2 linked regions of the Homo sapiens genome follow. The protein of the gene in region 1 interacts with the protein of each later gene in a pairwise test. Each region holds a gene or a part of one and is shown in the gene's direction. Other genes may lie near its edges.

Region 1 (5,421 bases):
ATTCAGCACACTGAATAGAAATGAAAAGTTATAACCTTAGAAACAATTCCTATTTAACTGACGAATATCAGCCATCAACTTACATACAATGGGCATGTCTAAGTTCTGAGGGTTTTCCTTTGCTCCTCAAGACAGTGATTCTTCTTTTTTCCCCCAAAATCAGAACAGCAAGGAATTAGAGACTGGAAAGAGCATTTTCTTCTTTAGAATATGGTATGGGTGTGAGTGTTGGACGTCTCAGTAGTGTCCAACCAAATAGGAGCAACCATTGTCCTACGGCCTTTGTGCTAAAAAGTTGTCCCATAGTAGGGCCAAGAAGAATGCATTAGAGCGTCCCTACATCTGATCACCAGCTGGAAGGAAACTTCTCTGGAAGATGAAGCCCATGGCCCAGTCCTGGATACTCCACACTCTTAGTATCTGTGGATCCGAACACCCCTTCCAGGGGTATGATTCAGGGAGCACAAAAGTGCTGATGAGAGGATCCTTCATCCTGGCTCCAAAAGCTCAGGTTCCTACCTCTTTCCCAGGGTTAACTTTACTCAGACCATGAACCTCAGCCTGTCAAACTCCCATCTGAGTCAGTCAACCTTCCACCCCTCAAATCTCTGTTAACTACATTCTCTGCCTGGAAACTCTCATCACTTCCCTGGTTCTCAGCTGGTTCCAGTTTTCTACAGACCTTTACTGGTCACCCCTACTTCTCTATCCTCCCCAGTTTGCATCAGGCCAGCCTCAGCCCCACTGTGGCTACAGTGTTCTGCTGGTGAGGTACCTCTGTGGCCTGCTCCCTGGATATCCACTTCCTCTGCTAGTTTTCGTTGGTCTCCTACAGCCCTGGACTACTCCCTGCCTCCTTCTCCTCAGAGAGGCTATCTTTCCATAGTCCATATAGAATTCCACAGTCAGGAATTCTATGCCTTTAGGTCCTAAGTAATTTTCTGGAATCATATCTCAGGTGAGCAACCCATAAAAGTGCTCACTTTACCAAGTCAACTTCCCTGGGCTTCAGTTGTGTTCCTGGTCGGGTGGGGGTGGACCTGGGGAGTGCTAAAGAATAATTACGAGGAAAAAAGTAAAATCATGACTCTCATATAAATATAAAATATGTGCATGAAACATTTTATTTAACTTATTAATTAATGAGGAAACTAGTAAGATGTTACAAATGGCTCAAAGGAGAATTCAAAGAGCCATACATATGTAGGAATAAGGAATATTGAAATAAGGAATGTACAAATAGATGCAAAATAAGTCAAAAATCAATTGCATTTCACCAGACATTTATTTGCATTTCTGTGGACAAGAATTGTTTGCATTATTATTAGTTTTCTACAATCTGAAGAGTTAGAAAATAACTCTAAGTCAATGAAAGATGGAGATAACCCAGAAAGGTACTCTAAAAACCACATCCAGGAAATTGTTTTTGCTGATTTTAAAGTCTTTCACAATTTTTTGTGATAGGAGAAAGGTCTCTTCCCTTTCCCACAAAAAACTACATCTAGTATAATAAATAGCACAAGCATTGTCTGTGATGTGAGAACAGGAATTTTTGCTTGTGGAGTCCAATATATGTGTCCTCTTTATCTCTAAACCTTGATAAGGGATAGAGGCCTCCTCCCTCTTAGAGCATTGCTACTCAGAATGTGGTCTGGCATCACCTGAGATGCTTAGAAATTCTGATTTGGAGCCCCAGCCTAAATCAAAATCTTTATTTTTAAACGTCCTGGACCCAAATAAATTAAAAGACATCCCATGTTTATGGACTAGAAGAGTTAATATTAAGATACCAATATTCCCACAAATGACTTACAGGTTTAATGCAATCCCTAACAAAATCCCAGTAGGCTGGTTTTTAAAAAAAAAAAAAAAAAAAAAAACGAAATTGACAAGCATATCCTAAAATTCATAGGAAATTCAAGGGACCCAGAATAGCCAAAGCAATCTCTGCAGAAGAGCAGAGTTGGATGACTATACTTCCCAATTTCAAAACTTACTACAAAGCTATAGTAATCAAGCCAGTGTTGTGCCAGCATCAGTTTAGACACATAGATTGACAGAACAGAATTGGGAGTCCCGAAATAAACCCATACATCTATGGTCAATTGATTTTTGACAAGTGTGCCAAGACCATCTAGTGGAGAAAGAATGGTCTTCTCAACAAATGGTGCTAGGACAACTGGATATCCACACACAAAGGAATGAAATTGGACAATGACCTCATATCATATACAAAAATTAACTCAAAATGAGTTAGAAACTTAAATGTAAAAGCTAAAACTGTAAAATTATTCAAAGAAAACCTGGACATAAATGTTTATGACCTTGAATTAGGCAATGGTTTCTTAGATAGGACACTAAAAGCACAAGTGACAAGAGAAAAACAGAAAAATTGAACATAATTAAGAACTTTGTGCTTCAAAGGACACCATTAAGAAAGTGAAAAAAAAAACAGAATGAGAGAAAATATTTGCAAATCATATATCTGAAAAAGGACTGGCACACATAATATATATAGAACTCTTAAAACTCAGCAATAAAAGTACAAATAACCCAATTTTAAAATGGACAAAAGACTTGAATAGAGTTTTCTCCAAAGAAGATACAAATGACTATGAAAAGATGCTCAACATCAATAGCCATTATGGAAATGCAAATCAAAACCACAGTGAGATACCACTTTACATCCACTAGAAAAACAACAAAGACAATGACAGTGTTGGAACCTTCATACATTGTTAGTGGGCATGTAAAATGATGAGGGGACTTTGGAAAACAGTCTAGCAGTTCCTCAAAATGTTAAACAGAGTCTTAACATATGACCCAGCAATTCTAGTCCCAGGTATATACCCAAGGGAGTTGAAAACATATGTCTATTATAAAAATCCTCATAGCTGCATTAGTCATAATAGTCACAAAATGGAAACAACTCAAATGCCCATCGACTGATGAATGAGTAAATAAAATGTGGTATATCCATACAATGAAATATAATTCAGCCATAAAAAAGACAAAAGTTAAAGACATTATGCTAAATGAAAGAGGCCATATAAAGGCCGCATATAGTATGATTTATTTGAAATGTCCAGAGTAAGCAAATCTCTAGAAACAGAGATTTCATTTGTGGTTGTCGGGCCAGTGAGGAAGGCGAGATGGGCAGTAACTACTCATGGGTAGGGGATTTCATTTTGGAATAAGGAAAACGTTCTGAAATTAGATTTTTGGTGATGGGGTGATAGTTACACAACTTCATGAATATACTAAAAACCATGGAAATGTTTCAGAGGGTGAATTTTATGGCAGAGGAATTGTATCTCAATAGTGCAGTTTGTTGTTGTTGTTTGACACAAGTCTTGCTCTGTTGCCCAGGCTGGCGTGTAACGGCACAATCCCAGCTCACTGCAACCTCCGCCTCTTGGGTTCAAGCAATTCTCCTGCCTCAGCCTCCCGAGTAGCTGGGACTACAGGTGCGCGCGCCAGCATGCCTGGCTAATTTTTTTTGTATTTTTAGTAGAGACGGGGTTTCACCATGTTGGTCAGGTTGGTCTCCATGTCCTGACCTCGTGATCCGCCCGCCCCGGCCTCCCAAAGTGCTGGGATTACACGCGTGAGCTACCGTGCCCGGCCTAGAGCAGTTATTTTTAAAAGATGGTCTTGAAACATTCAGCGCCAAGTGGCCGGGATTTCCGACGGAAGTCAGCGCTTGTGCCCCCACCCCCTTGCCCCGCAACTCTGTCCCCCGCCGCCCCTCCCCCCACCGACAGAGCGCGCTCCTCCCTAACGGTCGCCACTGCCCACTTCCACTGCCCACTTCCGGTTTCATCGCACACCCGCCTTTCACTATCCGCCATTCTTGTCACCTCAGCTGCTGCCCTCGCTACCGCACCGACTTCGCCCGTGTGCTCGCCTGCACTTGCGCTGCCCGCCATGGCCACCGCCCAGCCGTCGCAGGTGCGCCAGAAGTACGACACCAACTGCGACGCCGCCATCAACAGCCACATCACGCTGGAGCTCTACACCTCCTACCTGTACCTGTCTATGGCCTTCTACTTCAACCGGGACGACGTGGCCCTGGAGAACTTCTTCCGCTACTTCCTGCGCCTGTCGGACGACAAAATGGAGCATGCCCAGAAGCTGATGAGGCTGCAGAACCTGCGCGGTGGCCACATCTGCCTTCACGATATCAGGAAGCCAGAGTGCCAAGGCTGGGAGAGCGGGCTCGTGGCCATGGAGTCCGCCTTCCACCTGGAGAAGAACGTCAACCAGAGCCTGCTGGATCTGTACCAGCTGGCCGTGGAGAAGGGCGACCCCCAGCTGTGCCACTTCCTGGAGAGCCACTACCTGCACGAGCAAGTCAAGACCATCAAAGAGCTGGGTGGCTACGTGAGCAACCTGCGCAAGATTTGTTCCCCGGAAGCCGGCCTGGCTGAGTACCTGTTCGACAAGCTCACCCTGGGCGGCCGCGTCAAAGAGACTTGAGCCCAGATGGGCCCCACAGCCACGGGGTCCCTTCCCTGGGTCAGGCCACTAGGCGGGGCGTGCATGTTGCCCTTTCAGAACGTTCTCTTCAGTTTTATCTTTCAGTTTTACCATTGTTAGCAAAAAAGTTATCTGGTTCTCAAAGCAATAAAGGTGTCCATTTGATACACCTGCAACTCTCACCTTTTAGGAATCAGGGCAAATCCCCATGCAGGTTTAAAGTAGGTATCCAGCAGTCTCTCCACCCACCCCTGCCCCATCTGCATGCAGCTCAGGATTTGCAGGGGTGGAGTGGAATGGTATTTTATGGGCCCCTGGAAAACACATTAGTCTTCCCTTTGTAAACTACCAGGGTATGTGGGGTGGGATGGGGTGGGGTGGTCACTCTTGGGCCCTGGTGGCTGTGGGTGCATGGGCACGGTAAAGTGTAAAACGTGGTCTGGAATTCATCATAGTGGTTGCCTCTGGGGAAGAAGTGAAGGAAATGGGATTGGGCAAGGATTAAAATAAACAAAGGGTCTTCAACTTTACATGAAAACTTGTAGTTTATTAAAATATGCCAATGTTAATGTTTGTGGATTCTGAGTAGCAAGTGGGGGCTCTGGGTGACAGCACAGCAGGGTACTTCTTTGGCAAGCTCACTTTGGGTGACAGTTGTAGTGGGAGCCTTAAGCTGGCTTCCCCATAGCCAAGGGGCTGACAAACTAAAATGGCACTTTGCAAGTCCAAGTCCTTTTATTTACATTGTTGTACTTTGTTTTTACAAGAATCTCAGGAAGAAGGAAGGACAAGTATCATGACTTTATTAGTGACAAAAAGGGAGGCCATACAGGCAAGAAGTTGTGGAATCTGGACATGAACCTCGATCTTCTGATGCCATGTTCCTTTTTCTTTCTGTTACCCTGCAAGTATATCAACGGGTTAAAGAAGATTGTGTGGGTA
Region 2 (6,373 bases), on another chromosome or scaffold:
GACCTAAAGCACCTAGTGTCTCTTGGTGACACATCTGGACTGGCTGCCTGTGGACCATGAGGCTCCAGATGAGCCCCTCCACATCCCTTCCCCTAACCCTGCCAGGTGGATACAGGGAGGCAGGGTCACCGCTGCCCACTGAAGTGCTGTCTTTACCTTCCGGTCTCTGCAGACCTACGTCTACCAGTGGCCCTGGACGCTCCTGCTCCTGGCTGTCAGCGGCTTCTGTAACTTTGCCCAGAATGTTATCGCCTTCAGCATCCTCAACCTCGTTAGCCCCCTGAGCTACTCGGTCGCCAATGCCACCAAAAGAATCATGGTCATCACGGTGTCCCTGATCATGCTGCGCAACCCAGTCACCAGCACCAACGTCCTGGGCATGATGACCGCCATCCTGGGGGTCTTCCTCTATAACAAGGTGAGAGTCTGAGAGGCTGGGCAGGGAAGGAAGCCGGCCCCCCAACACCCAGGAAGTCAGAAAAGGAAGGGCCTCCCGGGCGCTCAAGGCTGGGGTTGTATGTCAGAGCTTTGCCACTGACTGGTTTATGATCTTGGCGTAGCCCCATCCCACTCTGGCTTCCTTTTTCCTGCATAGGCAACCTCAGGTCCTCAAATCATTCCGGCTGTGTCTCAGCTGGGGTTTTCCCTCCCTCCTCTCAAAGGCTCTGTTTAGTGCGGTGTAAGGACATGGGATGGCCAACAGGGAGGGCTTGCCTTCTTTTCCTTTTCTTTTTTTTTTTTTTTTTTTTCGAGATGGAGTCTGGCTCTGTCACCCAGGCTGGATTGCAGTGGCGCTCCATCCCAGCTTACTGCAACCTCCGCCTCCCGGGGTCAAGCGATTCTCCTGCCTCAGCCTCCCGAGTAGCTGGGACTACAGGCGCCTACCACACCTGGCTAATTTTTGTATTTTTAGTAGAGATGGGGTTTCACCATCTTGGCCAGGCCAGCCTCCAACTCCTGACCTCAGTTGATCCACCTGCCTTGGCCTCCCAAAGTGTAGGGATTACAGGCATGAGCCACCACACCTGGCCTCTTCATTTGTTTCTTAACACATGTAGATATGGGGTCTCTCTATTTTGTCCAGTCTGGTCTCCAACTCCTAGCCTCAAGTGATCCTCCCGCCTAGGCCTCCCAAAGCACTTGAACTACAGGCATAAGCCACTGCGCCTGGCCAAGGACTTGTCTTCTGAGTCTGTCCATGCACTGTGGTCTGGTCCATTCAAGTCTGCTTTCCTTGCTCAAGCCCTATGACTTATGCCGGCCCCGGAGGTTAACTGACTTTTTTTTTTTTTTTTTTTTTTTCTGAGACAGCGTCTTGCTCTGTCTCCCAGGCTGGAGTGCAGTGGTATGGTCCCAGCTCACTGCAACCTCCGCCTCCTGGGTTCAAGTGATTCTTGTGCCTCAGAACGCCTGAGTAGCTGGAACTACAGCATGCGCCACCACACCCGGTTAATTTTTTGTATTTTTAGTAGAGACGGGGTTTTGCCATGTTGCCCAGGCTGGTCTCAAACTCCTGAGCTCAGGTGATCCTCCCGCCTCGACCTCCCAAAGTGCTGGGATTACAGGTGTGAGCCACCGCAGCCAGCCAGTTGATTGACTTTGAATTACGAGCTCTTATGCCCCGGGCATGTCCTGTCTCATTGCTCTCTTTCTGGCACAGACCAAGTACGATGCAAACCAGCAAGCCAGGAAGCACCTCCTCCCCGTCACCACAGCAGACCTGAGCAGCAAGGAGCGTCACCGGAGCCCACTGGAGAAGCCCCACAACGGCCTCCTCTTCCCCCAGCACGGGGACTATCAGTACGGCCGCAACAACATCTTAACAGACCACTTCCAATACAGCCGGCAGAGCTACCCAAACTCGTACAGTTTGAACCGCTATGATGTGTAGAGTCCAAAGGACAGGACCAGACTGTTGGTGACTCCTTCCCCGGCCCCCACAGCAGTATCAGAAACTTCTGACAATCAGTGAATGTACAACCCAGCCGAGGGGACGGTGCATAACTCTCCATCAGAAGCCCTGGGGTTCCTGGCCCCCCGTGAGCCGCAGGAGGATGCGTTGCCTGCAGTGCAGACGGCCGTGAGCTCTGGGCAAACCTAAACAGAGACCAGTGTCTCATGCTCTTTCTTCCTGGAGTCTGTCATCTGAGGGCCGTGTCCCTGCGGAGATCTTGGCCACGTTGTACCTTTCCATGTGGAATTATTCCCCAAGCAGTGTAGCTCAGAGCACTTGTGTCTGCATTCCAGATAACATTCAGGACCTGTGTGAAAAGCTGGGGTCACTGTGGCTGTAGACCATGAACTGGCAGTGGGGGTGTCCAGGGCGGTGCTTGAGAACGTCAGACTGGCTAGTTTAATTCCCTGGCGCAGATACGCATAGGACCAACAGGGTCACCAAGCAGACAGGGAGCCCGCGAGAATCATTCAAAACATCCCCAGCCACAGAGATGGATCCAGTTTCCTGGTCATCCCCTTAGCAGTTCACAAGTTCCTGGCAAATGTTCCAAAGCAAAAAGCGATTGCAATTAGCATCCAGTTCCTGCAGCCTGGTGCTCTGCCCTGCACGTCAGGGTTGGCATCCACCCAGATCCAGATGGAAGGGAAACTTCTCTCTTCTCCTTTGCCTCCTCTTCCCTCACCAGAGCAGGGCGCTTCTCTTGGGGTGGTGAGAAGGATCTTCGAGAAATCGTGTTCAGTATTTCAAGCTCTATTTCTGTGGCACATGTCTTTTGAGAGGCATCTTCACCTCTTCTGTGATGACTTGGTATGTTGTTTGGTAGAGAGATCTTGATTTTCGGAGGATCTTGCATTTTTCTAGGGAATATTTTGTAGTTGTGTGTGTGTGTTTTTGCCTTGGTCCCCATTATGGGATGCATTAGGACTGGCCTATGCATCGAAAATCTTTTTGTTTGTAAACGTTTAAAAACAAAGTTCCCCGGCCAGGCACAGTGGCTCACACCTGTAATCCCAGCACTTTGGGAGGCCAAGATGGGCGGATCACGAGGTCAGGAGTTCGAGACCAGCCTGGCCAACATAGTGAAACCCCATCTCTACTAAAAATACAGAAATTAGCCGGGCATGGTGTCGCGTGCCTGTAGTCCCAGCTCCTCAGGCTGCTGAGGCAGGCGAATTGCTTGAACCTGGGAGGCAGAAGTTGTGGTGAGCCGAGATTGTGCACTCCAGCCTGGGTAACAGAGCGAGACTCCATCTCAAAAAAAAAAACAAAACAAAACCAAGTTCCCACTGGTGATGCCTGTCTGACACGTTTTGGTATTTAGTAGGAAATGAAGTGTTTCGAAGCTTCGAGAGAAGCTTCAAAATTGTCACAATTGCTGAAAACAGAATGAATCGTGAACATTATCTCAATATTTTGTATAATAGACAAGACCACAGTGTTTTGGTTCCCTGACCTGTTTTTGTGTTTATGTTAGGATCTGAATCATGTTCTGGGTAAGGGGACGAGGAGCGAACACTGCACTAAGATTTGGTTTGCCAAATCAGATTCTTTGGTCAAGAGTCAGTTTGGGGCCAGGCGTGGTGGCTCATGCCTGTAATCTCAGCACTTTGGGAGGCTGAGGTGGGTGGATCACTGGAGTTTGAGACCACCCTGGCCAACATGGTGAAACCCCATCTCTACTAAAACAAAAATTAGCCAGGCATGGTGGCACCTGCCTGTAATCCCAGCTACTTGGGAGGCTGAGGCAGGAGAATCACTTGAGCCCAGGAGGTGGAGGTTTCAGCGAGCTGAGATCACACCACTGCACTCCAGCCTTGGTGACAGAGTGAGACTCTGTCTCAAAAAAAAAAAAAAAAAAAAGGAATCAGTTTGGGTCTTGGCAGAAATCAACATAAGGAATATGACAAGACCCCAGTAGGTAACCCTGAGTGCTCAGGTCCGAGCTGTGGTCTCTTTTACGGCTTCATGAAAGGACCGTGCCCTCACGGAGGGGACCACGGCTTGGCTTGTGGGGTCTTAGGTGATGGCTGCCTTCTTTCTTCATCACCACACCCAGCTTCTTGCTGGCACTTAGGGGAAGAGAGCAGCAAATGAGAGATTTACCTTTTATCTCCCAGCGAGCGAGATGTTTCCCTGTTCAGAGAGGAAGTAACATCACTTATGCTTGACTGGTGTTTCTTTTGTTGTTGTTTGTTTTTCTTTCAATTGGAATTCTGTATTTAAGATGTTATGTCAGCTGACACATGGGACACTCCTGAAGAGGTGACTGGCCCCCCACCCTGTTTGGCGGTGAGTTTCCGCACCACCGGCCTCAGAAGTGTCCCTCTTGCTTCGTCTCTTGTTCGCTTGCTTTGTAAATACTTTGGTCCCAAGCTGAGACAATTGCTGTGTAAAACGTGAAGAGTCAATCCCAAAGGGTGTTATTTGTCAGAAGAACTTGCCGTGTGCCTTCACCGAAGGCAGTCAAGTCTGCAGTTGGATTTTTCTCACTGGTGAATGACAAGAAACAGGGATAATTTTGCACTGCGGAGATATTACGGGAGTTGTCTATATGATTATATATAGTACCTGATTCTTTGAACATATTATTGAACTCCAAAATGAATTCGACCTCCATTCAGGCTTCCTGAAATCTCTGAAGTTGCTGAAATTTGTATATTATTTTCCTTTTCCAATGCAAGATCTGCTGGTGACGGGAAATGACTGTCTGGTTTTATTATGGTTTATAAATTAATAAATGGGCTATTTAATTCTGTATATAAATTTACAGCAAGTACGTACACTGGAATGAATGAGGCAATCACGTTACACCAAATCAGCAGATCAAAAGACAAACACATATTTCTGAGACTTGAAGGTCCACATCCCCCCGCCCCCTGCCAAGATGGAGTCTTGCTTTGTTGCTCAGGCTGGAGTGCAGTGGCGCAGTCTCAGCTCACTACAACCTCCATCCCCCGGGTTCAGGTGATTCTCGTGCCTCAGCCTCCCGAGTAGCTGGGATTACAGGCATGCACCACCACGGCTGGCTAATTTTTTGTGTTTTTAGTAGAGACAGGGTTTCACCATGTTGGCCAGGCTGGTCTCGAACTCCTGGCCTCAAATGATCCGCCCACCTTGGCCTCCCAAAGTGCTAGGATGACAGGCATGAGCCACCGTGCCCAGCCTGATTGACAATGGCCTCTTGAAGGCTGGGTTTTCCCAGCCGGACAGTGCCCGCCCCACATGCTCCACTCCCACGCTTTCATCTGCAGGCCTGCCTTCCTCTCAGCCACCTCACTGCTGAGCTCTGTGGTAGAGAATTTCCTTTACCCATCAGGGTATGGTCTGGCTGGTAATACTGACTCCAACCCAGCTCCTTCATTTTATAGAAGGAGGCATTTCTGAATCATGTTTGTTCACCATGGCGAGACTCACTGCAGAATTTTTAACCACCTTATTTTAAGTCATTCATTCTAGGAACAGTCAAGCCCCTACCACAAAGGGGCCAGATCCGTTCAAGTGAGGAAGCACTTGCAGTTTCTGAATTTTGCTGTATATTTGTCCTATGTCACCCAACAGGCCCTTTGCTATAGCTGGGACATTACCAGACCCCAATACCTTAGGGTCTCACAGCCTGAAGGACACAGAGCATTGAATTATTAAAAGACCTGAAAATATTATAATGTTTTTCAATTGTCACCTGTTTTCAAGACTTAAATGCTATAGACTTTTCTGCAGGAATGACGTGTATATTCCTCACTGGCATTTACCAAAAATAAATGATGGTTTCCAGGGAATCAAAATTGGTCCCGATTTGTCAGCGAGGGTCTCTTTTTGAGTGGCCCTGTCTTCAGTGTGCCCAGCAACAAAATGTGGAAGGAGGAGAAAGAGCAAGCCAACTTGGCTGTCACGTCTGGATTTACTGCAACCTTTGTTTTTTCTTCTGAGCCAAAAATAAGGACGTGCAATTTGTGAATTGATTAGATGATACAATGAAAATAGGATCACAGCTAAATTAATGACGTGACTTTATTGAACGGAATAACATGGGAAGTCCAGGAACATTGTGGCAGCTGTGCTTATGAAACTTTTTTTTTTTTTTTTGGTATGTTTCATGTTTTTTGAGACAGGATCTCATTCTGTCGCCCAGGCTGGAGTACAGTGGCGCAATCCCGGCTCTCAGCAGCCACAACCTCCCAGACTCAAGGGATCCTTCCGCCTCAGCCTCCCAAGTAGCTGGGATACAGGCATGTGCCACCAAACCTGGCTAATTTTTGTATTTTTTGTAAAGATGGAGTTTCACCTTGTTGCCCAGGCTAGTCTCAAACTCTGGGGCTCAAGCTATCTGGCCTGTTATGTTTTTGGTTTAAGAGACAGGGTCTCACCTTATTACCCAAGCTGGACTGCGGTGGCACGACCACAGCTTCCTGCAGCACC

Evidence for each region.
Region 2: the proteins of FTHL17 (region 1) and SLC35E1 interact in binary tests that used the Homo sapiens proteins (3 or more experiments, as listed by UniProt).

What each region holds. Positions count from the first base shown.
Region 1 is NC_000023.11:31,070,460-31,075,880, reverse strand, and holds FTHL17 (ferritin heavy polypeptide-like 17), read left to right. Parts: upstream 1-3,839; 5' UTR 3,840-3,927; coding exon 3,928-4,479; 3' UTR 4,480-4,648; downstream 4,649-5,421.
Region 2 is NC_000019.10:16,549,197-16,555,569, reverse strand, and holds the end of SLC35E1 (solute carrier family 35 member E1), read left to right. Parts: intron 1-172; coding exon 173-418; intron 419-1,660; coding exon 1,661-1,891; 3' UTR 1,892-5,733; downstream 5,734-6,373. UniProt on the Homo sapiens protein: Putative transporter.